Regions from separate parts of the Homo sapiens genome. Here all the other regions are linked to region 4. The links come from fine-mapping of genetic effects on plasma protein levels. A gene starts in region 4. Each other region holds a variant in brackets. All regions are shown on one strand. Distances are from middle to middle. Region 1 overlaps PTPRS (protein tyrosine phosphatase receptor type S). Region 2 overlaps PTPRS (protein tyrosine phosphatase receptor type S). Region 3 overlaps PTPRS (protein tyrosine phosphatase receptor type S). Region 4 holds the start of PTPRS (protein tyrosine phosphatase receptor type S).

Region 1 (6,498 bases), 52 kb after region 4:
GTCCCCACAGCCCAGCGCGGGCCTGACCGTGCCGGCCGCCCTCCAGGGCCAGCTTGGGCCTGCTGCTGCCTGGCGCCCCCCCATTCAGGCCCGTCGCTTGCACTTTGGAAAACTCCAGACCGTTATGCTCCGCAGGGTCCCCTCCCCCGCCTGGCCCCCAGCCCGACCTCCTCCCCCCACCCCCTCTCCTCCCCCACCTCCCGGGGGCGGAGCCAGGCGCGGGGCAGCCTTCGCTGCCAGCCCGGGGGAGCTGTGACTGGGGACTTCGCAGAAGGCGGAGGAGGCAACAGGACCGCAGAGGGGGCAGGTAGCGGTGGGGGGTGCATGGCAGGAATCCCTGCTCTTAGCCACCCCCGAAAATCGCAGGAAGTTTACCTCCATCCATTTGTTTCCGCTCCTCTCGGGCCTGTGGACCCCACGTTGCCTCTGTGCTTTGTTGGGGGGCTTTAAGAAACTGGGGGGCTTGGCCTCAGGGAGGGGCCTGTGGTGTTGTCTTCTGAGACGGTCAGGGCAGCTCGTACCTTTCTTTTACCCATTCCCGTCCCTGGGCTCTAAGCCGTTCCAGGACCCAAGTACTGAGCTGACAGAGTTTGGTGACCCTCCCCAAGGGGCTTCCTGCAGAACCCAGGCTGGCCTCAGCTGTCTGTTCCTTCCAGAGCCTCACCCCCACCCTTTAAGTCTCTGCCAGACCCCCTAGGGTGGATGCGAGGCTGTCCCCGTCTCGGTCTCCATTGCCTGGGGTGGTCTCTGTCTATGGTCTCAGTTTCTACCTCTGAAACCCAGGTGACGCCAGGGATGCTGTGGATAAAGTGCCAGGTGGAGCTGGTTATGCAGCAGGCATCCAGTGCATGCAGGGGCTTTGCCACGTTCCTGGGGTGGGAAAAGGGCTTCCATCCAGGGGGTTGACAGACCCACAGTGGGAGCACAGCTGTGATGGGGTAGCTCAGAATGGGTCTTGATCCACCCTGGGGCATCCAGGAGGGCTTCTTGGAAGAGGTGACAGCTCAGCTGAGCCCTGAGGACAAGTATGAGGGCTGAGATTTGATGAGGATGTGAAAGGGTATGCTGGGTGGAAGGAACAGTGTGTGTAAATACCCCTGTGGGAGCCAGGGGCCACAAGTGGGGGGGATCAAGGTGTCAAGGGAAGCCTGGCATGGGGGGTTGTGGCGTGATGAGGTCAGCAGAGGCCGGGCTGGCAGCTCTGGAGGCTGAGGTAGCAGTCTGAGTTTTAATACGTGTTGATGGGAGCCATGGAGGGTTTTAGAGCAGAGGAGGAACGGGGCTCAGCTTGGAGTGGAGGCATCTCGTGGCTGCAGCTTACAGGATGAACTGACCATGGGCCAGCTGGGGAAGGGTGTGCCAGGTGGGGGACCTGCATGCGAAGAGGCTCAGAGACCTGAGGCAGTGTATTCTGAGAACTGCAGGACCTTTCGGGAAGAGGGGGTAGGGAAGACGATGGATGCAGTCACATCAAGAAGGGCCCAGAGCAGCGAGCACAGGAGCTGGGAGCCCCCGTGGGTGTGTGAGCAGAAGCAGGGGTACCCCCAGATCTTGGCGTCTCAAGTTGTTCCATGAAGCCAGCATGGGGGACACACTGACGGGCAATTTTGGCAGCCTGGGCGCCCAGAGGATGTGGACTCTGGGCTCGACTGAGAGCCGGGCTCTGGCCTCAAATCCTAACCCAGCCCAGCCCCCTCCTCCATGCAGGACCCTTGGTGAGCCTCGGTTTCCTAATCCGTTAAACAGCAGAAAACACAGAGAACATTTAATGGGGCTCAGCACCCCAGAGGCACCCAGTGGACTTTAATGATTTCCCTCTCCAGGGCTGGGCCTGGTTCCCTGTCTGCCCCACCCATCCACTCCTGGCCACCAGGACCCCTGGGGACAGTGCCCTGAGCCTTCACGTCGTCCCAATACAAATCAATAGTCAATTAAAGCCAGGTCCCCGGACTTCAGTTCCGGGAAGGGCCAGCCCCACCCAGCCCCTCCCTGAGCCCATTTCCTGATAGGGAGATAATGGCGCCCTGGGAGGGACAGTGGCTTGGCCAGAGCTGACTTGAGCCCACCAGTGGCCACAGAGCCTGTGCTTGCTGCCCAGGGGGGCCCTCGCTGCCTGTCCCTGCTTGAGTGGATGTGGGAGTGACCCAGGTGTCCAGGGAGGCTGGAGGCCAGGGTCCAGTCCTGGAAATGACGTTCCAGGCGGTGGCACGGGAGAGCTGTGGGTGGGGGGTGGATGTGAAGGTGGAGAGATTGTGCAGGGTCAGGGGTCTTTCCCCTGAGTCCCACTGCTGGCATAATCAGCCTCAGCTTCTCCTGCCCTGGGGCCATGGGATGGCCCCTGAGGGTTAGGACTAGGCCCCCAGACTCCCGCCCCAGGACAGGGCAGCATGGACTCTACAGCTGGAGCCTGGGCTGGGAGAGGCACCGGGAGCCTCCTCTGGCCCGAGGAGCCCCCGCCTCGTGCGGGTGACACAGCCTGTTTGCTGCCCGGCCTGGGTCATAATCACCCCTTTATGCTTCCTGGACCGCGTGGGCACACAAAGCCGGCTCCCAGATCGCGTGACCCATGCCCCGGCGCCTGGTTGGAATGAGTGCCCACTCGCCCCCCATTAGCACCGCGGGGGAGCCCCCAGAGGCGGCCAGCGGGCTCTACCAGTCCCAGAGAGAGTTGTCCAGAGATCTCGCAGTGGCCAGAGAAAGACACAGTCACAAGATTAAACGTGGGCTCTAGACCCAAGTCCCACCCCAGCTGGGGGCCTTGGCTGAGTCCCTGTTTTTCTGTGAGCCTCAGTTTCCTCATCTGTAAAAGTCAAGCGCCTGCCTCTGACCAGCTGCCGTGAGCTAGTGGTGGGCAGTGCAGCCCCTGAGAGCCAGGTGGGGCGGGCAGAGACCCTCCCTGAGCCCCACATGGGTTCAGCGTCCAGCGGTCACTCCCTCTCCTTCTCCCTAGCCCTGGCTCAGCCTCGCTGGCCACCATGGGCTGCCATGCTTTTCCTAACAGCCGTGTCATTTACTGGGAGCTTGCAGATTACTGCACCTGACTTAATTTCCCTTTCTTGGCAGTGGCAAGGCTGGTGGCCCAGGCTGCCTTTTGCAAGAGGACATGGTGGAGGGTTGGCCTGGCACCAACCTGGCCATTTCCCTCCCTGCCCAGGGCCACGTAGGGCTCCTGGCTGCTCTGTGGGTCTAGTCTATGTGCACCTCTCTGTCCTCATCTCTCCCCCTCTCCCTCCTAGGACCTCTCAGTGCTGCCCCCTTGCTCTTCCTCATGCTGTTTGTAGTGCAGAGACACCCTTGCCCCCAATTCCCATTCACCTTTTGGTCCTCAGCCAATATTAAATCCAGGAATGGCCCACGCAAAGGCCCGGGGGCAGGACTGGACTGCACTTGGGGTGTTGGAGAAATAGCAAGGA[G/C]GCCCATGCGGCTGGAGCAGAGGGAGGAGGGGGAGAAAGGGAGGAGGGGAGGGCACGGAGGGGACAGGGCAGGTCGTGCAGGACCTGGTGGGCCTCAGGAAGGACTTGGGCTTTGACCCCGAGGCAGGTGGGAGCCATGGAGGGCTGTGGGCAGAGGAAGGACGAGCCCTGACTCGGGTGCTTGCAGATGCTTTCTGGTTTCTGTGAGTGGAACAGATCAAGGGACAAGGGCGGGAGCTGGGAGACCACGATGGAGGTGACGACATCTGTCCAGGTCGGTGACAATGGGGCTGGAAGAAGTGGAGGCAGAAGAATGAGTAAGAAGTGGGCAGGTTGGGGACAGATTCTGAAGGCAGAGCTGATGGGACCTAGGGATCTTCTCTCCCAAATCCTCGCAGAGGACCTCACGCCTGGGGTTTTCGTGGAAGCAGGAGTCGGTGGGAGGATTGTGGGTGTGCAGGGTCCTATCCCCATCATGGGAGGTTCTCCTAGGGAGGATTGGCACCTAAGGGACCCCGGGATGTTTTGTCTTTGGTAGTGTCTGAACCCCACTCCCTGGGCCCCTCCCACCACCCTATTCCTGATACATCATCCAATGCCCCAAATGCTCCTGTTACTGTAGCCCCTCGTCCCTGCCCCTGACAGGCTGGAGTGGCGGATCTGGGGGGAGTCCATGGCCAGGCCCTGCCTGTCTGTGCCTGACTCAGCCCCATCCTGCGCAGACATCAGGGAGGTGTGGGCCCAACATGGCTTCTGCCGTGGGAGCCAGGGTGTAATTAGGGCTGCCTGGTTTAGAAGGTGGCTGATGCTGCCCTGAGGTCCTCGTGGGATGTGGGAGAGCCAGCTGTGGCTGGGGCCCTCCATATATGTGCCCCACCTGGGCTCTCTGTGCAAGTGACTCCTACCCATGCCCTCTGAGCTTCAGGTTTGCTATGCTGCCTCAGTTTCCCCAGAGGCTCTCTGCAGGCCTGCCCAGCTGCTCAAAGTGGTCTGGGACTGACCTCGCCCCCTCAGTGTGGCCAAGCAGATGTGCATTTCTGGGCAGGGCCAGCCGCTGTGGTCACCCTAGCCCCAGCTGGCCACAGGCTGTTTTCTCCATCTGGGGCCACCGCCTTCCTCGTTGGCAACTTTTGCTCTTAAAGGGCTAGGGCAGGGACTCAGAGTAAGGGACTGTGCTCTAGGCTTTATTTCCTTCATCTTCCCAGTCCCCAACTGGTTGTGTGCAAGGTGTACCTAGAGTCTGACTGTGTGTGTGCATGTCTGTGTAGCCTGCCTGTGTGCACATATGTGTGTAGGAAGGGAATCTGACTTTGCATATCTCTATTTGGCTGGCTGGCACATGCACCTGTGGTCTGCTGACTGACTGGCCTATCTATAGTCTGACAGTGTGCCGGCACCTGTGTCTGCGTGTGACTTTGACCGGCTTGTGCACCTGTAGGTATCTCTGATCTAATTGCATGTTTGCAGTTCCCTGTAACCCAACTGTGTATGTGTACTGCCTGCCCCACCATGACCCCTTATGTGTATCTTTTCTGGCTTGGTGTATGTCTGTGGTCTGATTTTGGGCCTGTCTGTGTTTGTGGTCTGACTATGTGCAAGTTTTATTTGCCTGATTGTGTGTGTGTGTGTGTGTGTGTGTGTGTGTGTGTGTGTGTGTGTGCCCGTCTCTGCTGCCTGACTGTGTGAATGCATTTGTTTCTGTGTCTCTTGCAGATATGCAACCGCTTGCAGTCTGACTGTGTGTCGGTGTGTATCGGTGGTTTGACTGTGTGCATCTGTGTATGTCTGTGGCGTGATTTAGCAGGCATCGTTCTCTGTGGCTGGTCTGACTGTATGCCTGTGGCCTAACTATGTACACTGAGGCCCCCCGAATCCCGTTCGTCACCCTAGGCTGTGACCCGGCCACTACCCGCCCATCCTTCCCCTGGGACCGCCCCAGGGCTGGGCGAGGTGACCGCAGCTGGGTATTTTGGGAGTCAGAATCACAGGGGCTGCCCCGTTATTATGCGCCACCAGTTCCTGTGGTCACGGCCTGGACCCGCCCAGGGCATGGGCTGGCATGGGTGCCAGCCTGACTAGGCAACAAAGATCTTATCCTTGGGCCTCTCCCTTCCCCTCCCTGGCCCTCTGACCTGGCTCTGGACAGAGTGGAGATTGGGGAGATGGGGAGGGGGCCATTCCAGGGTTCAAGGTATGTGACGAGGGACCCTTCTGCCCTGGAGGAGTTGAGGTTCTTGTGGGAGAAACGTGCTGAATGATTAACATCTTTTCATTTAGTTTGGGAACCAGGGTGAATACCACGGAGGATAACCTTAGTCATATCTGATGCTCCGGGATGTAGAATGTAGGGGGAATTGACCTTTGAGGGGCAGAGAAGGGTTTCCTGAGGAAGTGACAGCTAAGCTGAGACCTGTCATGTGGTGGGGACAGCATTCCAGGCAGAGGGCACAGCAGAAGCAAAGGCTTGGAGGTGGGACTGAGCTTGGCTGGCCTGGCTGTACCTCCAAGCGAGAGGAAACAGTGAAGTCAGCAAGAGTGGCTTCCCCTGGGGGCTCTGGGAGCCATGGGAGGTCTTAGAGCAGGGCAGGGACAGGCAGGTGTGTGGAAGAGATTTGTCTTATAACCTGGGGGATCAGGTTTTAGAGCCAGACAGCAGCATAGTCTGGAGTCCCCTCCTTCCTGAGAAGCAGCCTGTGAGTTGGAGAAAACTGGGGCTCAGCACCCCTCAGTCCTGGTGTGGGGCTTGGTCTGAGTCAGGGGCTCAGGTCCTCAGTCCTGGTGTGGGGCTTGGTCTGAGTCAGGGGCCCAGCCTGGGTTGGGGACTCATGCTGGGGTTGGGGTTTAGCTGGTGGTTGGAGGCTGTCTTAGTCCATTTGGGCTGCTGTAGCCAAATACCACAGACCAAGTGGCTTATAAATGACAGAAATTGGTACCTCACAGTTCTAGAGGCTGGGAAGTCCAAGATCAAGGCAACACAGATTTGGTGTCTGGTGAGGGCTATCTTCTGGTTCGTGGAAGGCATCTTCTCCCTGTGTCCTCACGTGGCAGAAAGGGCAAGGGAGCTTTCTGGGAGATCCTTTATGAC
Region 2 (8,141 bases), 69 kb after region 4:
TGAGGTTGCTCTAGGATGTTAAAATAGGCATACTCACCTGCCTGGTGGCTCACGCCTGTAATCCCAGCACTTTGGGAGACTGAGGCGGGCGGATCACGAGGTCAGGAGATCGAGACCATCCTGGCTAACACGGTGAAACCCCCATCTCTACTAAAAATACAAAAAAATTAGCTGGGCATGGTGGCGGGCATCTGTAGTCCCAGCTCCTTGGGAGGCTGAGGAAGGAGAATGGTGTGAACCTGGGAGGCGGAGCTTGAAGTGAGCCGAGATCGCACCACTGCACTCCAGCCTGGGCAACAGAGTGAGATTCTGTCTCAAAAAAAACAAAAACAAAAAAAAAACACGTACTCCAGGCCAGGCGCAGTGGCTCACACCTGTAATCCCAGCACTTTGGGAGGCCAAGGTAGGTGGATCACTTGAGGTCAGGAGTTCAAGACCACCCTGGCCAACATGGTGAAACCCCATCTCTACTAAAAATACAAAAATTAGCCAGGCGTGGTGGTGCGTGCCTGTAATCCCAGCTACTTAGGAGTTAGAGGTAGGAGAATCACTTGAACCTGGGAGGCGGAGGTTGCATTGAGCCGAGATGGCACCACTGCACTCTGGCCTGGTGACAGAGCAACACTTCATCTCAAAAAACAAAAACAAAAACAAAAACACTCCTACTCCAGGCTTTATTGCAGAGACTGAATGAATACATCAGATCGTCATGGAGGGTGAAGAATGTGGATGTGAAAGCCAGGCTGGTTCAAAGGAGCACGTTCAGCTCAGCCACCGCCTGGCTGTGCATGTCCAGCCAAAGCAAGTCCCTTGCCTGGTTTGTGTCTCAGTTTCCTCACATGTAAAATGGGGATGGCAGAGCTGGGTATGGTGGTTGACGCCTATAAATCCAGCAGCTTGGGAGGCTGAAGTGGGAGGATTGCTCGAGGCTAGGAGTTTGAGACCAGGCTGGACAACATAGCTACTTGGGAGGCCAAGGTGGGAGGATCACTTGAGGCCAGGAGTTCCAGACCAGCCTGGGCAACATAGTGAGACCCCAGGCTGGTTTTTGTTTTTGTTTTTGTTTTTTGAGACGGAGTCTCACTCTGTCGCCCAGGTTGAAGTGTGGTGCCATGATCTTGGCTCACTGCAGCCTCCATCTCCCAGGTTCAAGCAATTCTTCTGCCTCAGCCTGCCAAGTAGTTGGGATTACAGGTGCCCACCACTATGTCTGGCTAATGTTTGTTTCCTTAGTAGAGACGGGGTTTCACCATGTTGGTCAGGCTGGTCTCGAACTGCTGACCTCAGGTGATCCTCCGGCCTCAGCCTCCCAAAGTGCTGGGGTTACAGATGTGATGGCCTTCACCTGTAGTCCCAGCTACTTGGGAGGCCAAGGTGGGAGGATTGCTTGAGCCTGGGAGGTCTAGGCTGCAGTGAGCCAAGACCGTGCCACTGCACTCCAGCCTGGGTGACAGAGTGAATCCCTATCTCTCAGGAAAAAAAAAAAGAAAAGAAAAAGAAAAGAAGGCTGGGTGCAGCGGCTCATGCCTGTAATCCCAGCACTTTGGGAGGCGAAGGCAGGCAGATCATGAGGTCAGGAGACCGAGACCATCCTGGTTAACATGGTAAAGCCCCATCTCTACTAAAAATACAAAAAGTTAGCCGGGCATGGTGGTGGGCACCTGTAGTCCCAGCTACTCGGGAGGCTGAGGCAGGAGAATCGCTTGAACCTGAGAGGCAGAAGTTGCAGTGAGCCGAGATCACACCACTGTACTCCAGCTTGGGCGACAGAGTGAGACACTGTCTGGAAAAAAAAAAAAAAGAAAAGAAAATGACGATCAGGATGGCACTGCCTCTCCATGCTGTTGGAGAGGTTAAATATTAAATATTACTTCCCCTTTCTGAGCTCCTGCCTCCAGCTCAGAGCACTCTCCTGGGCACTGACCCCTCGTGTCCAGCCACCTCCTGGATGCCTCCCAAGAAGCTGGAGCTCTGGGTTCAAATACTGGCTCTGACCTCATGTCCCATGGTCACCCCCCGCCCCCATGCTGGGTGCCTCAGTTTCCCCACATGTCTCACCAGGAAATTAGACCAAGTTATTCTGGCAAGTGCTTTCAGGGCCCTCCAGGGTTTGGCTGGTCACCATGGAGGGGGGGTTCAGGTGCTGAATTTAGGGACCCCAGCATCTCACAGGTTTCCCCTTCCATCTTTCCCAGTGGCACTGTGTCTGAGCAGGTGTGCCCAGGTGAGGTTGTATCCACTGTGTCTGAGCAGGTGTGCCCAGGTGAGGTTGTATCCACTGTGTGTGAGCAGGTGTGGCTGTTGCAGGTGGAAGTGGGGATATGTGGGCACCTGGGTGCCCATGGGTGCCGTGGTGGGGGGCGAGGTGGGAGGGTGTTTGTTGTCATCCTTGCTTTCCTCCTCCTCTCTTCATTGGCCACATGGCACTTCCGTGGGCAGGGCATGGAATGCAGGTTTTCGTGGCTCCTTGGTATCCTAGCCAGATGCCTGGACCCATCAGCGCCCCCCCTTCTTTCCACTGTATCCCCAGAGCCCCCCAGGTTTATCAAAGAACCCAAGGACCAGATCGGCGTGTCGGGGGGTGTGGCCTCTTTCGTGTGTCAGGCCACGGGTGACCCCAAGCCACGAGTGACCTGGAACAAGAAGGGCAAGAAGGTCAACTCTCAGCGCTTTGAGGTGAGTTGGGGTAGGGGGAGGCAGCCTGGGGTCAATGCTCCCCCAAGGCAGGGCCACAGCACCTCAGCCACAGTGGACTTCGTGGACACGTTCCCCAGGTGGAGCATCATCTGTGGCCAAGCAAGCATGGCTGCGCAGCCTCCAGCCAGGGCCCTGCCCGCCTTACTTGCTCTACCAGCTCCATGCTGTGTGGCCTCAAGCAAAGCCCTGCCCTCTCTGAGTCTTCTTCACAGTGCAGTGTACACAGCACCACTGCACACAGAAGGAACTTTACAACTCTCAATACACGCCCATGATCACACGTGCACATTGACACATTCCGCATGTCTTCACATGCCTTTGCATGCCTGTCACATGGGCTTGCAGACATTTGTCACCCTCACACATGCACACAACACCCTGTTCTTATATGTACCCAAATCTGGTCCCTGTCTGCGGCGCATTTATACTGGACACCGACACACGTGCACATTCAGCCTGCAGCAATTCTCCCAGTCACCCCCAGGATCATGGGGCTGACTGCCATTCCCCTACAGCCCAGCCTAGCCCAGCCTAGACAGGAACCTTCCTGGGACCCCAGCCTCACTCTGTTCTTTTTTCCCCTGCCCATGGCAGACGATTGAGTTTGATGAGAGTGCAGGGGCAGTGCTGAGGATCCAGCCGCTGAGGACACCGCGGGATGAAAACGTGTACGAGTGTGTGGCCCAGAACTCGGTTGGGGAGATCACAGTCCATGCCAAGCTTACTGTCCTCCGAGGTATTGGGCTCCTCAGGGCGGGCGGAGGATAAACTGGGCCCTGGGCTTTGGGGACAAGCACAAAAGGAATACATGAAAGTTACCCCAAACCCTCCTGCTTTGTGTTTTTTGGGAGGACCTTGATCTCCCTTATCCAACCAGTAACAGTCTCAGGGCCCAGCGCCTACTGGTGGGGATTTATTGTGCCTTTGCAAGAAAGAAAGGAATTGAGAGACTAGAATCATCCTAATTTATAATCTTCATCATGTGCTTCTGATGACAAAAGGCTGATCCAACTCAGATGGGTTCAAGCGAGAAAGGTAATTGATGTGCAGAATTAAAATTCCATGGAGTGGCTGGCTTCAGGTTCAGCTGGATCCAGGGGCTCATTGAATTTTCTCAGAGCTCACTCTCTGTCTCTTGGCTTTGTTTCCTTCTGTATTGATGATATCCTTAGTGAGACTTCCCCCACTGCCAATGAACTTGGATCCCATTCCCTTCCCTGAACTAATCACTGTGGCTCAGGAGGAACAAACACTCTGATTGGCTAGACTCCTACCTGGAGCCAAGAGTGAGTGTGGTTCCCCCAAAGGAATAAAGATAAACAGGGTTGGGCATGGTGGCTCACACCTGCAATCCCAGCACTTTGGGAGGCTGAGGTGGGAGGATCACACGTGAGACTAGACTGGGCAACATAGCGAGACCCCATCTCTACAAAAAATAAAGGATGAACGGATGCTAGGTAGGCAGAAACTGCTGCCCCACTTCCCCAGACATTCACACGGGCCTGCAGTGCTGCTTGCTGGTCTTGTTTAGGTGCAATTCTTTTTTTTTTTTTTTTTTTTTTTTTTTTTTTTTTTTTTTTTTGAGACAGTCTTGCTTTGTTGCGCTGGCCAGAGTACAGTGGCATTATCTCAGCTCACTGCAACCTCCACCTCCCAGGTTCAAGCGATTCTCCTGCCTCAGCCTCCCAAGTAGCTGGGATTACAGGCACATGCCACCACGCCCAGCTAATTTTTGTATTTTTAGTAGAGACAGGGTTTCACCATGTTGGCCAGGGTGGTCTCAAACTCCTGACCTCAAGTGATCCGCCTGCCTCAGCCTCCCAAAGTGCTGGGATTACAGGCATAAGCCACTGCATGCAGCCTAAATGCATTTCTTGAACAAGTCGCAAGGGGTTTATAGGGGGCTGTCTGAGTGATGCTGTTTTATAATGAGGAAGCAATTTTGTGAACAAATTTTTGTTCAGCATCATTTCAAACAGCCGCCTACAAACCCTTGCCCAACCACTCTGTGCTGCCTTCTCCACTGCAGTTTGGTCTTAGCACTGGGCCCAGCCTGTGGAGCTCAAGTCCTGGCTGCCACTTGGTTGCTGTGTGACCTAGGGCAGGTTAATGAACTTGTCTGAGCTGC[A/G]ATTTTCTCATCTCTAAAGTCGGGCTGAGTACAGGGACTCAAACATCTGTAATCCCAGCACTTTGGGAGGCCGAGGCGGGTGAATCACCTGAGGTCAAGGAGTTCAAGACCAGCCTGGCCAACATGGTAAAAGCCCGTCTCTACTAAAAATACAAAAATTAGGTGGGTGAGGTGACGTGCACCTGTAATCCCAGCTGCTCAGGAGGCTGAGGCAGGAGAGTTGCTTGAACCCAAGAGGCGGAGGTTGCAGTGAGCTGAGATCACACCATTGCACTCCAGCCTGGGCGACAAGAGCGAAACTCTGTCTCAAAATAAATGAATGAATGAATGAATGAATGAATAAAAATGAAATGGCTGGGCGCGGTAGCTCACGCCGGTAATCCCAGCACTTTGGGAGGCCAAGGCGGGCAGATCGCGAGGTCAGGACTTAGAGACCAGCCTGGCCAACATGGTGAAACCCTGTCTGTACTAAAAATACAAAAATTAGCTGAACGTGATGGTGGGCACCTGTAATCCCAGCTATTCGGGAGGCTGAGGCAGGAGAGGATCGTTTGAACCTGGGAGGTGGAGGTTGCAGTGAGCCGAGATCACGCCATCGCACTCCAGTCTGGGCGACCAGGGCAAGACTCCGTCTCAGGGAAAAAAAAAAAAAAAAAATCGGGTAATAATGGTTCTCACCACAAGGGGTAATTCCGTGAACCAGATGAGTGAGTGATACAGGGAGCAAGATTAGCACAATGCCATATTTGGTCAATTCTACTTCCCCGTTACTGTGTTCATCACTGTTAGGATTCTGGTTTAGTAAGATGCTTGTTACCAATCCTTCTGCAGCCCTCAGGTGAGTGGGTTCCACCTGTCACCTGCAGAGACATCCCAGTCATGTATATGAGCCACTGCCAGCCATTAGCTGGGAGGTGACCCCTGCATGTGGCTTCCCAAGATGAGGCTATTCCAATGTCCTCCACGGCAGCCCAGCTGTGACCAGCTTGGAGCCCTGGGAGGGGTTATCACAGCGGCCCTAGTAGTACTCGATTTCAGACTCTGGTCCCATGAAACTGGGACTGGCATCACAGGCGAGTGACCTGTACAGTCATCCAGGATCCCTCCCTCAGGCCCTGTGCTTTGGCCTGTAATCCCAGCAGTTTGGGAGGCCGAGGCAAGTGGACAACTTGAGGTCAGGAGTTTGAGACCAGCCTGGCCAACATGGTGAAACCCCAAATCTACTAAAAATACAAAAATTAGCCAGGCATGGTGGTGTGCACCTGTCATCCTAGCTCCCGGATTCTTGGGAGGCTGAGGTAGGAGGATTGCTTGAACCCGGGAGGCGGAGGCTGCAGTGAGCTGAGATTGCGCCACTGTACTCCAGCCTGGGTGACACAGGGAGACTCCATCTCAAAAGAAAAAAAAGAAAGGCCCCGTGCTTTTTAAAGCTCTGCTGCTGGCCACATGCCGTGGCTCACACCTGTAATGCCAACACTTCGGGAGGCCAAGTCAAGAGGATCACTTGAGCCCAGGAGTTTGAGACTAGTCTGGGCAACATAGAGACCCCATGCCTCACTGTCCAAGTCTCTACAAAAAGAAAAATGTAAAACTTAGCCTGGTGTAATGGGGCCTGCCTATAGTCCCAAGTACTTAGGAGGCTGAGGCAGGAGGATCGCCTGAGCCTCGGAGTTCAAGGCTACAGTGGGCTATGATCATGCTACTGCACCCCAGTCTGGGTGACAGAGCAAGACCCTGTCTCTAAAAGGGGGGTGGGGGGGAGGGGGAAGAAAAGATAAAAGCTCGCTATTGTGGTCTGGAAAGTCTTAATACTTTTCTAACAAGAGACCCCACAATTTCATTTGCGTGGGTCCTGGATCCCATCCTGCTGGGGGATGGAGGAAGGAGCGGGGGCGGAGTCAGGCCCACCGTGGCCCGCCCTGCTCTTCCTAGCAGATAATTTTGCCCTGACCTTTCCCAGGCTGGGACAGAACAACCTGCCTTCTCTTGCCCCAAGCCAGCCTGCACTCTGAGCACTCAGGGTATTAAAAGGACAAGCTGTGAAGCCATCAACTGCCCGGTCCCCCGGAGTCTGGGAAAAAAATGCCCCCTGCGCCCATCCACACTCTTTTTTTTTTTTTTTTTTTTTGAGATGGAGTTTTGCTCTTGTTACCCAGGCTGGAGTGCAATGGCGTGATCTTGGCTCACTGCAACCTCCGCCTCCTGGGTTCAGGCAATTCTCCTGGCTCAGCCTCCTGAGTAGCTGGGACTATAGGCGCCCACTAGCACGCCCAGCTAATTTTTGTATTTTTAGTAGACACAGTGTTTCGCCATGTTGGTCAGACTGGTCTTGAACTCCTGACCTCAGGTGATCCACCTCCTCAGCCTCCCAAAGTGCTGGGATTATAGGCGTCAGCCACCGTGCCGAGCCCACACCCTTTTTCTCTCTCCTCTCCGGCTGCCTGGAAGGGCCTGCTTGGGCTGGGAGCTCATTCTTCCTGCTGGGGCCCGGGGCCTTGGATACCCTGACCCGATCCCACCCACCTTGCCACCAGCCCTGAGCTCCGGGCACCTCCGGCCAGTCCCTGGCAGTTGGTGGGGGACCATCTGGACTGCCAGGGCCACTCCCTGCCTTCCTCCTCCTCTGCCATCTGATTGTGGACCCCACACACGCCTCCTGCACTGTTGTTTTAATTAAACTCCGAGGAACTGGGCAGAGTGTGGTTCGCGATGTACGTTTTTGTTTAATTAGGTGTTCTCGGTAGCGTCAGGCGGCCGAGACCTCCCCCTGCACCCTGGCTGGCTGCTGTCCACACACGCTTATGGGGACCCCTGCGGGGCCACATACACACGGGAATTGCTCACGTGTGGACACGTGGGCACGGGCAAGCGTGAGCACATACATGCGGCACACATGTACCCACGCATGAATGAAATACAGGGTTCCCTCGTAGGCACACGAGCATGCATAGACACACAGGGGGATGCCGACAGACCCAGCTGTGGGCACCAAGACCAATTGAGTGAGGCCCAGTCATTTTGGCCCTCATCTCCGATGATGTCATCAGTAGCCAATCAGAGCCACTTTCAAGGTCGTCCAGGTCCCTGGCCCAGGAAGGATGGACAAGAGGCCTGAACTGCCTCAGACGGCATCCAGCCATGCCCCCTTCAGGGCCCCGATGGGTTCAGACCTGGTTGAGTGGAGGGCTTTTGCAGCCGGTCCTGCTCAGCTTCTTCTGAGCTCAGCCAGGCCTGGGTTCAAATCCTTGCTACATGCTGGCTGTATGACCTGGGACAAGTGTGTGACTGCCTGTGCCTCCGTTTCCCCCTCTATGGA
Region 3 (8,141 bases), 44 kb after region 4:
CAAGTGTGGTGGCTCACACCTGTAATCCTAGCACTTCGGAGGGCCAAGGCAAGGCGGATCATTTGAGGTCAGGAGTTCAAGACCAGCCTTGCCAACATGGTGAAACCCCGTCTCTACTAAAAATACAGAAATTAGCTGGGTGTGGTGGCATGTACCTGTAACCCCAGCTACTCAGGAGGCTGAAGTGGGAGAATCACTTGAACCCAGGAAGCGGAGGTTGCAGTGAGCTGAGATTGCCGCGCTACACTCCAGCCTGAGCGACAGAGTGAGACTCCATCCATCATCCAATCAATGGGGGGTATTGGGACATGGCAGAGTCATGAGCAAGGAGGGGAGGATTGGGGGGAGACTGTGATCACCCTTCCTGGGGACTGGTGGGTGTAGAGGGGGAGGATGCGCTTGAAGGAGAGACCAGCAGGCATCTTGCAGAGAGGATGTGGCCAGATCCATTAAATGCATTTACAGCCAGGTGTGGAGGCTCATGCATGTAATCCTGGCACTTTGGGAGGCTGAGGCGAGTGGATCACCTGAGGTCAGGAGTTCAAGACCAGCCTGACCAATATGGTGAAACCCTGTCTCTACTAAAAATACAAAAAATAGCCAAGCATGGTGGTGGGCACCTGTAATCCCAGCTAATCGGGAGGCTGAGGCAGGAGAATCGATTGAACCTGGGAGGCAGAGGGTGCAGGGAGCCGAGATGGTGCCACTGTACTCCAGCCTGGGTGACAGAGCGAGACTCTGTCTCAAAAAAAAAAAAAAAACAGCAACAACTTTAATACACTTGACGCTGGCTCAAGGTGGGAGACGGCCTGGCAGGGGCCCAGGCTGGCAATGGGGCCTGGCGGGGGGACCGGCCATTCTGTCCCTCCCCCGTCCTCCACTTTTGGCTGAGTCAGCATGTTGGCGCTGCAGAGCTGACTCCGGCTGTGGCCTGGAAGCCTTTTCCAAGTTTCTGCCCTTGGGGCTGGAGCAAGAGCTCCCAGAGGATGCTTTGCTGGCCAGCCAGGGAGATCCAGGTTCAAAGCCCAGCAATGTGGCTTTTGCTTTCTGGCTTTCCATGTCACTATGTTGGAAATGTAGAGTTTGGATACCCTAACGTGGCTGCCCAGGGAGTGAGAGTGGCCAGGGTACTGTGGCTGCAGATGGCACCTGCTGACCTCTGTGCTATTGGCCAGCACCTCTAGTCTCTGCAAGGCCTCTGAGCCATTGATGTCTTCACTCTTTCATGTCTATATTTTTTATGGAAATTTTTTTGTTATATATATTTTACCGCTTTTTCTTTCTTTTCTTTTCTTTTTTTTTTTTTTTTTTGAGACGGAGTCTTGTTCTATCACCCAGGCTGGAGTGCAGTGGCACAATTTCAGCTTACTGCAACCTCTGCCTCTTGGGCTCAAGCAATCCTGCCTCAGCCTCCCAAGTAGCTGGGATTACAGGCATGCACCACCATGCCCGGCTAATTTTGGTATTTTTTGGTGAGATGGGGTCTCACTATATTGCCCAGGCTGGTCTCAAAAACCCAGGCTCAAGTCATCTGTCCACCTCGGCCTCCCAAAGTGTTGGGATTACAGGTGTAAGCCACCACACCCGCCCCACTTCTTCATTTAGAAAGCATTTATTGAGCATATACTGTGTACTCGACCCTGGCAGTGACCAAGACTGACCTGGCCCCTTTGTTGCTGGGAGAGCTGGCCACAGAACTTTCTGCAGTGATGGAAGTGTGCTATGTGGGTTTCAGTACTCTGACCATGAGCCACACTGGAAATGTGGCCGGTGTGACTTGAGGAGCAGAATTTTAAATTTTATTTAATTTTTCTTTTTCTTTTCTTTTTTTTTTTTTTGAGATGGAGTCTCGCCCCGTTGCCCAGGCTGTAGTGCTGTGGCATGATCTCACGTCACTGCAGTGTCCACCTCCTGGGTTCTAGCAATTCTCATGCCTCAGCCTCCCATGTAGCTAAGGCTACAGGTGTGCACCACCACACTCAGCTAATTTTTGTGTTTTTAGTAGAGATGGGGTTTTGCCATGTTGTCCAGGCTGGTCTCAAACTCCTGGCATCAAGCAATCCACCCACTTTGGCCTCCCAAAATGCTGGGATTACAGGTGGGAGCCATGGCACCCGGCCTATTTAATTTTTCTTCATTTAAGTTTAATGAGTCACATGTGGCTAGTGGTCCTTTTTCTTTTTCTTTTCCTTTATTTTATTTTATTTCGAAGCAGAGTTTCACTCTTGTTGCCCAGGCTGGAGTGCAATGGCGCGATCTCAGCTCACTGCAACCTCCGCCTCCCAGGTTCAAGCGATTCTCCTGCCTCAGCCCCGAGTAGCTGGGATTACAGGTGCGCACCACCATGCCCGGCTAATTTTTGTATTTTTAGTAGAGATGGGGTTTCACCGTGTTGGCCAGGTTGGTCTCAAACTCCTGACCTCAGAAGATCCACCCATCTTGGCCTCCCAAAGTGCTAGGATTACAGGCGTGAGCCACCACACCCAGCCACTAGTGGTTCTTGTATTTGATAACTCAGACCCAGACAGTGAGTAAAGACAGAGAATTTCAGGTGACAGTAAAATAATGGGTAATGGGTGATGGGTGCTGCTTGAGCCAGGTGGTCAGCCAGGGCATTTCTGAGGAGGTGATCCTTGAGGGAGAATGGAAGGGTGAGAAGAAAAGTGACAAGAAAATGTAGAGGAACAGTGTTCCAGGCAGAGGCATAGCCTGTGCAAAGGCCCTGAGGCAGGACTGCACTTGGGGTGCTGGAGGAACAGCGAGGAGGCCCATGTAGCTGGAGCAGAGTGAGGGGGAGAGAGGGAGGAATGGAGGGCAGGGAGGAGATGGAGCAGGTCATGCAGGGCCTTGTGGGCCACCAGGAGGACTTGGGCTTTGACCCTGAGGGAGGTGGGAGCCATGGAGGGCTGTGGGCAGAGGAGGGACGGGACCTGACTCAGGTGCACACCGGCACCATGTAGTGGGTGCTGTGGGGAGGACAGACTGGAGGGCGAGGGTGGGAGGCTGGGGACCAGGGCAGAGGTGACTGTGCTGGTCCGAGCAGGCAATGATCAGGCTGGATGGGTTGGGAAGGGAATATGGAGAAAGATGGACAAAGTGAGTAGAAATTTAGGAGACAAACGTGAGAGTATTTCCAGACCAACACCATATGGGGTGAGGGAGGAAAAGCAGTGAGGGCCAGCTTCCAGGTTCTAGCCTGAGCCCCTGGAAGGACAGAGCTGCTATCAGCAGAGTTGGGGAAGACATGGGAGGAATGGCTTTGCTGGATCCAGCCATGCCTGAAGGTGTCACACATTTTCCAGGAAGGGGAAGGTAGCCTGGCCTGCGGGGGCGGACAGGTGAAAAAGGCAGACATGGAGCTGGGGCGTGCCTGTGGTGGGCATCATGCCCGCTGCGGTGCGGCTGGCGGGTAGACCCGGCGCCAGGGCTGTGATGTGAACATGGGTGAGGCGGGCTCCTGGCTGGTTGGCACCCGCCCATGCCCCGGGTCATGAATGCTGTGCTAGGTAGGAGGCGGGAGCCTTGGGCATGGGCAAGACCAGGGCAGGGAAGCTGAGAGGAAGCTGCCCAACCAGTTTCTCTCTGGCTCTCACAGCCAAGAGTACAGAGTTTGTACCTAAATGAAATGTCTGGGGGTTTTGGTGCCAAATATGAAGGAGGTGGGACAGACAGGCTGGGGGAGGGGGTCCTGCCCCGGTCAAGGGTATGGTTTTATCTGAGGGTTCCCCATCAGGGAAGGTTTAAAGGCTTGAGAACATCCCAATGCAGTCACCCCTGCTTTGGAAGTTTCTTCAGGAGACGAAGGGACACAGCTGTGTCTAAGAATGTCCCTCACAGTGTTGTTTATAAGGGACATAATGGGATAAACAAGTGGGAATTGATTAAATTCTGTGACCCGGACACTGGAACATGGTCTGCTAATGGTGATCCCCATCGAACGAAAGAAAAGCACCCATTCGTATGCATAGAAGAAAGACTGGAAGGAGGCCGGGCGCTGTGGCTCACGCCTGTAATCCCAACACTTTGGGAGGCCGAGGCGGGCGGATCATGAGGTCAGGAGTTTGAGACCAGTCTGGCCAACATAGTGAAACCCTGTCTCTACTAAAAATACCCAAAAAATTAGCCGGGCGTGGTGGTGTGCGCCTGTAATCCCAGCTACTCAGGAGGCTGAGGCAGGAGAATTGTGTGAACCCGGGAGGCAGAGGTTGCAGTGAGCCGAGATCGTGCCACTGCACTCCAGCCTGGGCGATGGAACGAGACTCTGTCTCAAAAAAAAAAAAAAAAAAAGAAAAGAAAAGAAAGACTGGAAGGAAATGGTTAGCCTCAGGGCCATCGTATTTGCTGTTCCTCCTGCCTGCAACTCTGTTGTCATAGGTGTTTGTATGTCTGATTTGCTCTCTTCCTCCAGGTGTAAATGCAATTATCACCACTTCTAAGAGGCTCCCCCAGGGACCCCCCAGTTTTTGCAGCCTTGCAGTGTGGTTTATTTAATTATTTTTGGCATCTCTTAGCACTGCCCGGCCTTATGTTATTGACAGTGTTTGTTTTTCTGTGGGTGTCCATCCCCCCTGCAACTAGTCTGTGCCCCCCAACAGGGGCAGGAGTGCTGGTTCCATCATGCTTAC[C/T]ACTGTGTCCTCAGCACAGCACACAGTAGGTGCTCAGCACATGTACAGGGAAAGAATGAATGAGAACGGCCGCATGAAACAGTTTCTCTCTAGGCGAGGGATGGATTGTGGGTAACTTTTATTTTCTTCTTTATGCTGATTTTACCTAATTTTCTGCTGCACGCGCCTATTTTATAATTAGAAGAAAAGTTATTTTGAAAAAAATTACCCCCCAACGTCCCAGCTGTGGGAGCTGACGTGATCCAGCCCCGTGTTCCTCCCCAAGGGCAGCCGCCTCCTGGGTGTATACAGAGGACATATCAATGGAACGTTTTTGGAGGGGTCCAGGGGTCAGCCCCCAAGGGCACGGAGTAGGCGGGGCAATCAGGGAGGGCTTCCTGGAGGTGGCCACCCTTAACCTTTAGGGTGCTCAGGCCAAAAACCCAGAAGTCATCCTTGAGTCCCCTCTTTTCTGTACATCCCCAAATGAGCCGTTTAGAAAATTCTATTGGGTCTGCCTAGAATGTGCCTTTCTCCCTCATCCTCTACCCAGTCCAGCCCCAGCCTAGTCATCCCCCACAGTCTGCCCTCCCCACAGCAGCTGAGCATGTCTGTGAGTACCTGAGTCAGGGCCTTCCTCTACCCACAGCCCTCCATGGCTCCCACCTTCCTCAGGGTCAAAGCCCAATTCCTCCTGGAGGCCTCTGAGGCCGTGCGCATCTTGTCCCCATTCCTTCCCTCCCCTCCCTCCCCTCCCCTCCTCTTTGTCTCCCCTTCCTCACTCTGCTCCAGCAACACTGGCCTCCTCGCCATTCCTCCAACACGCCAGGTGCAGTGCTGCCCCGGGGCCTTTGCATGGACTGAGCTCTCTGCCTGGAATCCTCTTTCACTTTCTCTCACCTTCTCCTGGTCTTTGTTCGCATGTCACCTCCCCTCTCTCCTATCCTGTGTTTATTTTATTTTACATTTTTTTAGAGATAGAGTCTCGCTCTGTCGCCCAGGCTGGACTGCAGTGGCACCATCCTAGCTCACTGCAGCCTCAACTTCCTGGCCTCAAGCGATGCTTCCGCCCTCAGCCTCCCAAGTAGCTGGAACCACAGTCATGCGCCACCAGGCCCAGCTAATTTTTAAAAGTTTTTGTAGAGATGATGGGCTATATTGCCCAGGCTGGTCTCAAACTCCTGGCCTCAGGCGATCCTCCCTCCTCATCCTACAACCCTGAACCCAATCATCCTCAGGGCCCTTACCACCATCTGACCCACAGTGGATTTGATTTCTTTTGTTTCTCATGTGTCACCCTCTTTAGAGCATCCACACCCTGAGGGCAGGGATCTTTGTCAGTCTTGGTCACTGTGTGTCTAGGATTGTGCCTGGCATCGGGGCTTGGAAATGTTTGTTTAGAAAAGGGTAGGCTGGGCTTAACCTTATTACGGGCTCATGTCTGTGATCCCAGCACTTTGGGAGGCTGAGGCAGGAGGTTCACTTGAGTCTAGGAGTTCGAGACCAGTCGGGGCAACATGGGGAGATCCCATGTCTACAAAAAAATCCAAAAATTAGCCAGACGTGGTGGCATGTGCCTGTAGTCCAAGCTACTCAGGAGGCTGAGGTGGGAGGATCACTTGAGCCCAGGAGGTTGAGCCCAGGAGGTTGAGGCTAGAGTGAGCCATGATGGTGCCACTGCACTCCAGCCTGAGCAACAGAGCGAGACCCTGTCTTGAAAAAAGGGTAGGTGAAGATGCCTGCTTTATGACAAGGGCACACACAGTGTGGCCTTTGGAGGAGAATAAGGTCGGAGGGGCTCTCCTGGGTGAGGCTGGGCCTGATTGTGCAAATGTTTGCTGAGAACCTCCTTTGTACTGTGGACCTGTGCTAGGTGCTGGGGACACTGGGTGACCGAGACAAATCCTGCTCTGCCTCCTGAGGTCACAGTCTGGTGGGAGAGGCAGACCCGGGGACTAGGCGCATGTAGGGCTCTGTGCTGATGGGGCCACCCAGCCAAGGGGGAGGGCACCTGGCCCACCTCCCCCAGCCCCTCGGGGGTGGCTGTGTCCCCTGCCAACTGCAGTCACCACTGTGGAATAGGGGCAAGAGTCTGCCTCCACAGAGACATGGACAAGAGGCCCAGAGAGGGCAGGACTGGCTGGGAAGCGGCTGGCAAGCCCTTGTCTGCCGTCCCGAGTCCTGGGCAGCCCAGAGCCAGGCCTGTATGCTGCAGGTCATGCAGCCCCAAGCCTCCTGACAGTGTGGATTCATTGAGCACCTGTTCAGTGCTTGGCTTATGTGGCAGATGGGGAAACTGTCGGCCCGAGAGGTACGGGTGCTTTCTTGACACACGGGGCATCCCTGGATTCAAACTCGAGTCTGTATGAGCCCCGTGCCTTGCCACAGATACAAGCAAGGTGCCTACTCTGCTCCTGAGGGCCCACTGTGTGCCCAGCCAAGTTGGGGAGGTCACGCTGGTTGCTCCTACGCCTACATTGACACAGGGAACCTCCTGTGTGCCTTTGGTGATGCTGGGGCACCAGGCAGCCTCCTCCATGAAGCACCTACTGTGTACCTCGTCGAGGATGGGGCTGCGTGGGACGGGGGACGTCACGGCATCCTGTGTTTAGCACCTCCTGTGTGCTCTGTGTCAAAGGGGCAGGCAGGGAGCCTGTGTGCAGACACTCACAGACCACCTACTGTGCATGGTGCTTTGTGGACTAGGCCACCTATTGTTGGAGATGGGGCGGGGCGATTCCATGCTCCATTTTGCAGAGGAGGGAAACTGAGGCATGGTAAGGGAAGGGGGCAGTGTGGTATCCCCCAGTGAGGGAGGCATTTATTCGATGTTTGAAGGAGATGGGAGCCAGCCACTGAGGTAGCAGTGGGAGGGCATGGACGGGAGCCGTGGGAGCGGAATTGTTTCTGCTGGGCTCTCACAGCCGCCTGTGTGTCTCCCATCAAAGCCCACGTCCTTTGCCCCACTGAGTAATGGCTTCTAGAGAGTGGGGCGTCTGTCTTCAGGATGGCCCTGTACCTAGATAAACCCAAGGGGCTTGAAATTATTCATGATATATCCTCAGTTCCGGGGGCCCCAGGCCTCCAGCAGCGCTGTGGTGAGAGCTCCTCCTCTGGACCCAAACCCTGGTTCCAATTCCTGCTCTTCCCGGCCGTGGGCAGCCGTTTCTCTCTCTTTCTCGGCTCCGTTCTTTGCAGAATGGGGGTGATGGTGGGGTCTGCCTCCTAGAGCCGTGGCCGGTGGCCTGAGGAAGCACAGCTGATGGCAGCTGAGCGCCCAGGACATCCCGTTGGCGTTGGCGTTCGGGCTTCGTCCTCAGCGCGAATGCTGGGAAGAGAGGCGTTTTTTCCAGGGATGGGAGCAGACGCGGGAGCCCTTGGGTCTCCATCCCGGCCTCTGCCCCTGTCCCGTCCCCAGACCCCCAGGTCCCGCTGGGCTTCTACATTCCGGGCCCCTCCGGTGGAGTTTTCAAACCCGCACCCCGGGCGCAACGCTGGCTCGGATTGGCCGCCCGGACAGGTCTGCCCCTCCCTCTC
Region 4 (8,141 bases):
ACACAGGGAGAGCCTGTCTCTACAAAAAATTTAAAAATTAGCCAGGTGTAGTGGTCTGTGCCTTTCGTCCCAGCTACCTGGGTAGCTGAGCTGGGAGGATCACTTGAGCCCCAAGAGGTTGAGACTGCAGTGAGCTGTGATTGTGCCATTGCACTCCAGCCTGGGTAACAGAGTGAGGCCCTGTCTTGGAAAAAAAAAAAAAAGAATTTTATAATTTTCTGTTCTTGTTGTATCGACTTGTAGGATCATCTTTTGTTTCTGGCTAGGCAACCATAGTTTTCTCATTTACAGTGACCGCATTTTTTTTTTTTTCTTTAGACGGACTTTGTTTCTTATTGCCCAGGCTGGAGTGCAATGGCGCGATCTCGGCTTACTGCAACCTCTGCCCACCAGTTTCAAGCGATTCTTCTGCCCCAGCCTCCCAAGTAGCTGGGATTATAGGCACCCGCCACCACGCCTGGCTAATTTTTTTGTATTTTTAGTAGACACAGGGTTTCGCCATGTTGGCCAGGCTGGTCTCGAAGTCCTGGCCTCAGGTGATCTGCCCACCTCGGCCTCCCAAAGTGCTAGGATGACAGACGTGGGCCACCGCGCCCAGCCTACAGTGACCACACTTACCAGAAATCCTTTTGTGAGTCTGCACCTGGTGGCAGGTGGTTGACATAGTGTGATTCATTTCACCCTCCAGACAGCCCTAAGGGACCAATATTATTTATTTTTTATTTTTTATTTTTTTGAGACGGACTCTTGCTCTGTCGCCCAGGCAGGAGTGCAGTGGTGTGATCTCAGTTCACTGCAAGCTCCACCTCCCGGGTTCACGCCATTCTCCTGCCTCAGCCTCCCGAGTAGCTGGGACTACAGGCACCTGCCACCTCGCCCGCTAATTTTTTGTATTTTTAGTAGAGATGGGGTTTCACCATGTTAGCTAGGATGGTCTCGATCTCCTGACCTCCTGATCCGCCCGCCTCGGCCTCCCAAAGTGCTGGGATTATAGGCGTGAGCCACCACGCCCGGCAGGGACCACGATTATTATTATCCCCATTTACAGACAGGCAAACTGAGGCACAGCTAGAGTAGGGAGACACGCAGGAAACACACAAACCGGCCAAAATATAAAATCATTCCAAATCATGATAAATAATCTGATACTGAAGTAAAGATGATCATGTGGTCACCTCAGTGAGATGGTCTGGGAGGGTCTCCCAGAGACTCGAAGAGCAAGGAGGAACAATTGGCCTTGAGAAAAGCAGGAGGAACAGCATCCTGGTCAGAGGGAACAGACAGTGCAAAGGCTCTGTGGCAGGACCTTACCTGGTGTGTTGGAGGCACAGCAAGGAGGCCCGAGTGGCGGGAGCAGAGTGAGCGAGGGTGACAGAGGGCGGGGAAGGGGGTAGGTTATGCAGAGCTTGGTGAGCTGTGGGAAGAGCTTAAGCTTTTACTCTAAATAAGATATTTCCTATCTCCTCCCAGCACTGTTGACTCCAGGAATTTTTGCTCTGTTGCCCAGGCTGGAGTGCAGTGGCGTGCTTAGAGTTCACTGCAGCCTCAAACTCTCACATCCAAGCGATCCTCCTACCTCAACCTCCCAGGTAGCTGGGATCACAGATGTGTACCACCATGCCCAGCTAACTTCTAAAACTTTTTGTAAAGACGGGGTCTCCCTATGTTGCCCAGGCTAGTCCCAAATACCTGGGCTCAAGCCATCCTCCCGCCTCAGCCTCCTAAAGTGCTGGGCCAAAGTGCCTGGCCAACTCCAGGGATTTTAAAGACTGTTTTGTTTACTTCTGTTGTCCACAGCACTTCAAACAACCTGGGAGCGGGGCCGGATGCATGGCCTGAACAGATGGGTTTCCCAAGCACATGCTGGAATGTATTTTTTTTTTTTTTTGAGACAAAGTCTCACTCTGTTGCCAGGCTGGAGTGCAGTGGCGCTCAGCTCACTTACAACATCTGCCTCCCGGGTAGAAGCGATTCTCCTGCCTTCTGAGTAACTGGGACTACAGGCACGCGCCACCACGCCCAGCTAATTTCTGTATTTTTAGTAGAGATGGGGTTTCACCATGTTAGCCAGGCTGGTCTCAAACTCCTGAGCTCAGGCAATCCACCTGCCTTGGCTTCCCAAAGTGCTGGGATTACAGGCGTGAGCCACCGCACCTGGCCAACGTATTTTTTGTTTGAGAGGGAGTCTCACTCTGTTGCCCAGCTGGAGTGCAGTGGTGTGATCTCAGCTCACTGCAACCTCTGCCTCCCAGGTTCAAGCAATTCTCCTGCCTCAGCCTCATGAGTAGCTGGGACTACAGGCATGCACCATCACACCTGGCTAATTTTTGTATTTTTAGCAGAGACAGGGTTTTGCCATGTTGGCCAGGCTGGTCTCGAACTCCTGACCTCAGGTGATCCACCCGCCCTGGCCTCTCAAAGTGCTGGGATTACTGGCATGAGCCACCGCGCCCAGCTGCTACAATGTATTTTAATTCTGTTTTTGATGTATTTAATCTGTTTTCTTTGACTGCTCACAAAATCCCTCAGAGGTACTAGTGGTTGTCCCCCTTTTCTAGATGGGGACAGCTAGGCTTACAGTGTTGCGGCCACTTGTTTGAGGTCACCTCCCAAACAGGTCACTGGGCTGGGGTTCGTGCCATGATCAGCCCCTCCACGATCAGCCATCTCATTTTACTGTGTCTCCACCAATTCTCCAAGGCTTCAGCACCCACTGTGCGTGAGAAACCACGCTAAGCATTTGTGCACAGACCACCCCATTTGATCCTTCAAGATGGGATCGTGTTCCCATTGCTTGGATGAGAAAACTGAGGCCAGATTGTAAACGGTCAGATCAGGGTCACCCCACCAGGAAGAAAAACAAAGTAGGCTCTGCAAACGTGGCTGCTGCACTGGCCGCTGGGAAACTCCAAGCTTAAATTAGGTTCCTTGTTAAATTATTCATTATCTCCTCTCTTTTCTCCTGTTTATGACTTCCGCCTTATCGTTTTGTTCCCCGGGTTAATGCTTTTTGTTTATCTGCATCTGTGGCCTGGAATGAATGAATCAACAATTTTGGAGGAAAAAAAAAACCAATTCTAAAGTTGAGTTCCTCTGTTGGGCACCAGGCCTTCTCCAAATATGTGCCTTGAGGAAATAAATGCTTTCGACATGATCAAAACACAAGGACTGATGTGCAATCTTGCTTGGTGGCTGTGAGCCCTCCAACCCCCTTACCTTTGTCAATATCCCCCTTTTATTTACTTCCGCTCTGTTTTTTTTCCTTATTTTTGAGAGTCTCACTCTGTCGCCCAGGCTAGAGTGTGCAGTGGTGTGATATTGGTTCACTGCAACCTCCGCCTCCCGGGTTCAAGAGTTTCTCCTGCCTCAGCCTCCCAACTAGCTGAGACTACAGGCACCTGCCACCACGCTCGGCTAATTTTTGTATTTTTAGTAGAGATGGGGTTTCGCCATGTCGGCCAGCCTGGTCTCGAACTCCTGACAAGTGATCTGCCCACCTTGGCTTCCCAAAGTGCTGGGATTACAGGCATGAGTCACCGGGCCCGGCCTCTTTTCTCTTATTATTCCATCTTCAGGCACCAATGGCAGCCAGGCTGCCACATTATAGCAATTCATCATCACACCCTCCTTAGGAGCAGGGGCTACCTTGCCCCATTTTACAGATGAGAGCTGAGATCCAGAGGCAAATCCATTCTACAGATGGGGAAAGTGAGGCTCCGGGCCTCACACAGCAAATCAGTGTTTTAGCTGGGTTCCAACTGTGGCTCGTCCTGACTCCAGGGAAGCAGGGGATGGTAATTAGGTGAGACCTGTGTAAAGTGCTTACTCTATAAGAAGTGCTCCATCATCCATTCATTCATGTGTTCAACCTACAATAGGGATCTCTGGAGCCACACTGTAGTGTAACTAGAATAAAAACGGGATAATGGGACCAGGCGCGGTGGCTCACGCCTGTAATCCCAGCACTTTGGGAGGCCGAGGTGGACGGATCACTGAGGTCAGGAGTTCAAGACCAGCCTGGCCAACATGGTGAAACACTGTCTCTAACAAAAATACAAAAATTAGCCAGGCGTGGTGACAGCACGCCTGTAATTCCAGCTACTCCGGAGGCTGAGACAGGAGAATAGCTTGAATCCAGGAGGCGGAGGTTACAGTGAGCCGCGATCACGCCACTGCATTCCAGCCTGGGCGACAGAGTGAGACTCCGACTCAAAACCAAACAAACAACAACAACAACAACAAACCGGGATAATGGGATAGAGTGGAGTGGGGCGTGGCTGGTAGCTGTTGTCAGGGAGGGCTTCTCCCAGGCGCTGCTTATTTGAGCAGAAATTGGAAAGATGAGAAGGGGAAGTTCTTGGATGCTCAAGTTAGAGGAACTGTAAGAAGCTGGCTGAGGCGGGAGGATCACCCGAGCCCAACTACTCAGGAGGCTGAGGCGGGAGGATCACCTGAGCCCAGGAGTTTGAAGCTGCAGTGAGCTATGATCATACCACTGTACTGAGGCCCAGGTGGCAGACCCCATCTCTGAAAAAGCAAAGAAGGAGCAGCTGGTTTTTCTGGATCATTGACATGGTGGGGGGGAGGGGACAGGGTAGTGGGCGCTAATGTGAAACGGCGAGCTGCAGAGAGGAGGCGGGATTTTATTCCAAGGGTACTGGGGAGCCGTGGCACAGTTTAGGGCAGCGCACAGAAAGTGCCATGCCCTTTGCACCCAGGACGCTGGGGCTCCCGCACGGACAGTAGCCCCAGGGGCCCTTCCCGCCGCCGCCGCAGCCGCCACCACCACCACCACCCCAGCCGCCCACGTGTCCCGCGAAGCCCCGCGCCCCACGTGCTCCCGCGGCCCTTTAAACACCCCGGAGCCACGTGACCGCGCTGCGCCGTCCCATTGGCCGGGGGGCGTGGCGGCCGCGCGGCTGCGCAGTGACGCGCACGGGCCGGCCCTGCCCCCGACCCGGCGGCGGCGGCGGCGGCGCTGGCGGAAGGGATGACGTCACCGGCTGGGGGGGCGCGCGAGCGGGAGCTAGGGGAGCGCGAGCCGCAGTGAGTGTCCTCGCGCCGCCCGCCCGGCAGCCCGGCCGGCGCGCGCACGCCGCGAGCCGCTGGCGCTCGGGCTCCGCTCGGATCCCATGCAACAGCCACGATGTGAAGCGGGGCAGAGCCGGGGGAGCCCAGCCCAGCCAGCCTCCAGGTAAAGCCAAAAAAAAAAATAAAATCATGGATTAGAGGAAAAAAAAATGCAGGCGCTCCAAGGGGGGTCTCGGAGGCAGCCGAGTGGGCAGCGCGCCGGCTTTGTGCCGGGGAAGCCTGCACGGCCATTGTGCTCGGAGGATGCTCGGCTGCAGCCAGTTGCACGCCCAGCCGCTGCGCCCCGGTAGCTGCGCCCGGACAATGCCCCGAGGGACAGGGCCGGGGCCGCGCTGGGGGCGCTCGGCAGGGGGTGCTGGGGGGGCTTCGTCCGCGGCGTGGGAGGGGGCTGGGCTGGAAGCGCCCAGAGCGCGGCATTGGAAGCTGCCCAGCGCCGCCGGCTGCACCACCCCGGGCTGCGGGCGGGGCAGAGGCGCGGAGGGGGGCGCGCGTGTGTGCGGAGCCGGTGCCGGCCCCGGCGGCGCCCGGCCCGGGTCCCCGGGCGGGTCCTGGAGGCAGGGGGCGCTGTGCCGGGGGATGGGGGGCATGCGGGCGCCCCGGAGCGGAGAGGAGCCGGGACGGGTGGCTCCAGGCGGGGTGGCTCCAGGGCTGCTGCGCCCGCCGCCTTCCCTCTCCGGGTCTCCCTCCCCTGGAGACCCCCTAGTCTACGCCGTCTCCCCTGGAACACTCCGGGCCCTGTCGTTGCCTTATGGGAGGTCGCCCCTCCGGCACTCGGGCATTGCCCCACCCTTCTGCGGCCTCGGCGCCCCCTTCCAGCCTCCCCACCCAGGGGCGAGCCTCAGCCCCCAGCCCCAGGGGCTCTGGCAGGCAGACGCGCACGCCCAGCACCCCAGTCTCCCCTCCGCGCTGGGGGCCCCGTGGGGATCCCGAGAGTGGGGAAGCCGCCCCTGGAACCGCCAGCCCCGCGGGTTCCGCACGCCCCGGGAGCCCCCGGGGGCTGCGGGGGGAGGGGAGGTGACGTCATACCGGGGGCGGGGCCGTCGGCACTGGGTTAAAGGGGGCGCGGGGCGTGCCCTGAGGGGAGCCCCCCAGGTTAGAGTGCCCGCGCCGTGGGTGCGAGGGTTCGGCCAGGTTGCGGCCAAGTTCACCTCTCTTTATGGGAATCTCTCCTAAAATTAAGATCCTCCCCTTCGGACCTCCCCCTACAAATCCTGGACATTTCCCACCAATTCCCCCCCTTCCCAAATTGGGGAACTCCCCTTCGGCCGCTTTCTCTCCAGAATCCTCAAATCAGGGAACCTTTCCCACAAACTGGGAATCTTTTTTTCAGCCACACCCCCCGCCCCAAATCTGGGACCTCCTTCTTCGGTTGACCCTCTTTCCCCAGTCTCAAATCGTCTTCTCGTCTCCCTAAATATGCAGCTTCCAAGAACGCCCCTTCCTCTGCAACCCTTCCTCAAATCCAGCCACCTCCTGGGACCTCATTCCCCCAAATTAACAAACCTCCCAGAGCCTCATTGGGGGTGCCTTGCCTCCCCCTTCTGGGCTCAGCTGGGATTCCCCTGTCCCCCCCCGTCACAATCTAGGGGAGCCCCCTTCTGAGCATGGGGTCCTCCTGCCTCTGGCCGAGACCCTAAAAACACATCCCGGCAGCCGCGGCTAGTGAAGCGGGTGTCCGAGGTGTCGGAGTCCCGGCTGAGCAGCAGGGATGATACCTAGAAGCCGGAGGAGGCAGGAAGAGACCCCTAGGGTCCCAAGGACAGGGACCCACACGCTCCGGGCTCCCGTCCGCCACCACCCGGACTTTGGCTGCTGGGATTCTGGCCTCCTCTGGGTGGCCCCCTATCGCTGCTGTCCTTGGGGTGCAGAGGGTGACGGCGCCTCTTTGTCTGGGGCGCCCTTCTTCCCTCTTTCTGCCGCCTTTCGCCCGGGAGAAGGAAGCCATCCCGCTCCTCTGCTCCTGCGATACCAGCGGCAGCTGCTGGAGCGTTTATTAATGGCCCAGGGACTTGGTCGAATCTGCCATTTGCATAAGTCCCCTCCCCCTCCCAGGGTCCCTTCCTTTGTGCCCCCCTCCCCCTGCCAATCGCGCCTGCCTTCTGTCCCTCTGCTCTTCTTTCTTTGCCAGCTGATATTTTGGCGGTGGAAGGCAGGCAGCTGGGGCTGGGGGCGGCTGCTTCCCGCCCTCAAATCCCACAGCCCCCCAGCTTGGGCCTGACTGAGTCCCCACCTGGGCATCCCTCCCCTACCCCCCCGCTGCCCTCCACAAAGCCTTCCGTGGGGCATCTCTTTCTGGCTGGCAGGCTGGCGGAGTCTTCATTATTTCCCTCCGGGAAGCAGGGTCCTGCCCTGTTCCCCAGGCCCGGGGGACACCCTCATCATGACGGTGCACTTCTGCATGGGGGCTAGGCCTCCCAGCCCCCTGGGGGCCACCGCCCGCCATACTCCATCATCCTGAGAGTTGTTCTAATTGGGCTCAGGCAAACAAAACGTCGCAGGAGACCCAGGCTGCCTGGTGAGCTCACGCACTTTTCTATTTCTGCCACCCTGGCCGATGACATTGCCCCTAACCCCCCAGGGGGTGACAGAGACTGGTACTGTCAGTGGCCGTCCAGAGATGCCGTCCCAAGAGGCGGTGGACTGGCCCGCTCCCCACTCCCCGCGGGAGATGGGTGACAGGTCATTTTGGCGTGGCCCGGCTGAGGCGCTGGAGGGTGCTACTGGTTGGCAGGTCAGCTCCGGGGACGATTTCCCCCTCTCCAGGAAACCTTGAGAGCCTCTGAAGTCTGCGTGAGGTGGCGACAGAGAAGGGGACATTCAAACCCCAGGTTCCTGCCTGCTGCCAGCAGAGAAAAAAAAATCACTCCTTATACCCCGGTTGAGCGTTCAGTGCGCCTTTTTTCCCTGCCTCCCAGGGGATTTCAGGCATCGTCCAGTGTCCATGGACCCTGCTTGGAGACACAAGTCCATTTTCCCCCAATTTCCACCATGGAACAGGGGGAAGCTTCGTGGATGCCAGGGATTTCGTGGTAGCATCTGGGTGGGGAGAC

The links. PIP is the chance, under the fine-mapping model, that this variant and not a neighbour inherited with it causes the effect. The UK Biobank Pharma Proteomics Project read protein levels with antibody pairs (Olink). The fine-mapping took linkage between variants from a reference panel, not from the people measured, so its PIPs are less certain.
Region 1: its variant is fine-mapped to the plasma level of the PTPRS protein (UK Biobank, PIP 0.99).
Region 2: its variant is fine-mapped to the plasma level of the PTPRS protein (UK Biobank, PIP above 0.99).
Region 3: its variant is fine-mapped to the plasma level of the PTPRS protein (UK Biobank, PIP above 0.99).

Annotation. Positions count from the first base shown.
Region 1 is chr19:5,286,540-5,293,037 of GRCh38, reverse strand. All of the region lies in intron 1 of PTPRS (protein tyrosine phosphatase receptor type S), which reads left to right. Among named protein-coding and RNA genes, the nearest start is that of PTPRS, 51 kb to the left of the region's middle. RefSeq lists a silencer at 1-44. The variant G/C (reference allele first, on the strand shown) is at 3,414.
Region 2 is chr19:5,268,734-5,276,874 of GRCh38, reverse strand. PTPRS (protein tyrosine phosphatase receptor type S) reads left to right here. Exons shown (of 38, transcript NM_002850.4): 3 at 2,531-2,676; 4 at 3,292-3,433. Among named protein-coding and RNA genes, the nearest start is that of PTPRS, 68 kb to the left of the region's middle. RefSeq lists an enhancer at 7,463-7,963. The variant A/G (reference allele first, on the strand shown) is at 4,826.
Region 3 is chr19:5,293,938-5,302,078 of GRCh38, reverse strand. All of the region lies in intron 1 of PTPRS (protein tyrosine phosphatase receptor type S), which reads left to right. LOC105372253 (a long non-coding RNA gene) reads right to left here. Exons shown (of 2, transcript NR_187754.1): 2 at 7,396-7,932. Among named protein-coding and RNA genes, the nearest start is that of PTPRS, 43 kb to the left of the region's middle. RefSeq lists enhancers at 359-859, 3,380-3,880, 6,293-6,909, 6,910-7,527. The variant C/T (reference allele first, on the strand shown) is at 4,626.
Region 4 is chr19:5,337,717-5,345,857 of GRCh38, reverse strand. PTPRS (protein tyrosine phosphatase receptor type S) reads left to right here and starts at 5,046. Exons shown (of 38, transcript NM_002850.4): 1 at 5,046-5,194. LOC105372252 (a long non-coding RNA gene) reads right to left here. Exons shown (of 5, transcript XR_936279.3): 5 at 7,792-8,141. RefSeq lists a silencer at 4,839-5,118 and an enhancer at 6,985-7,658.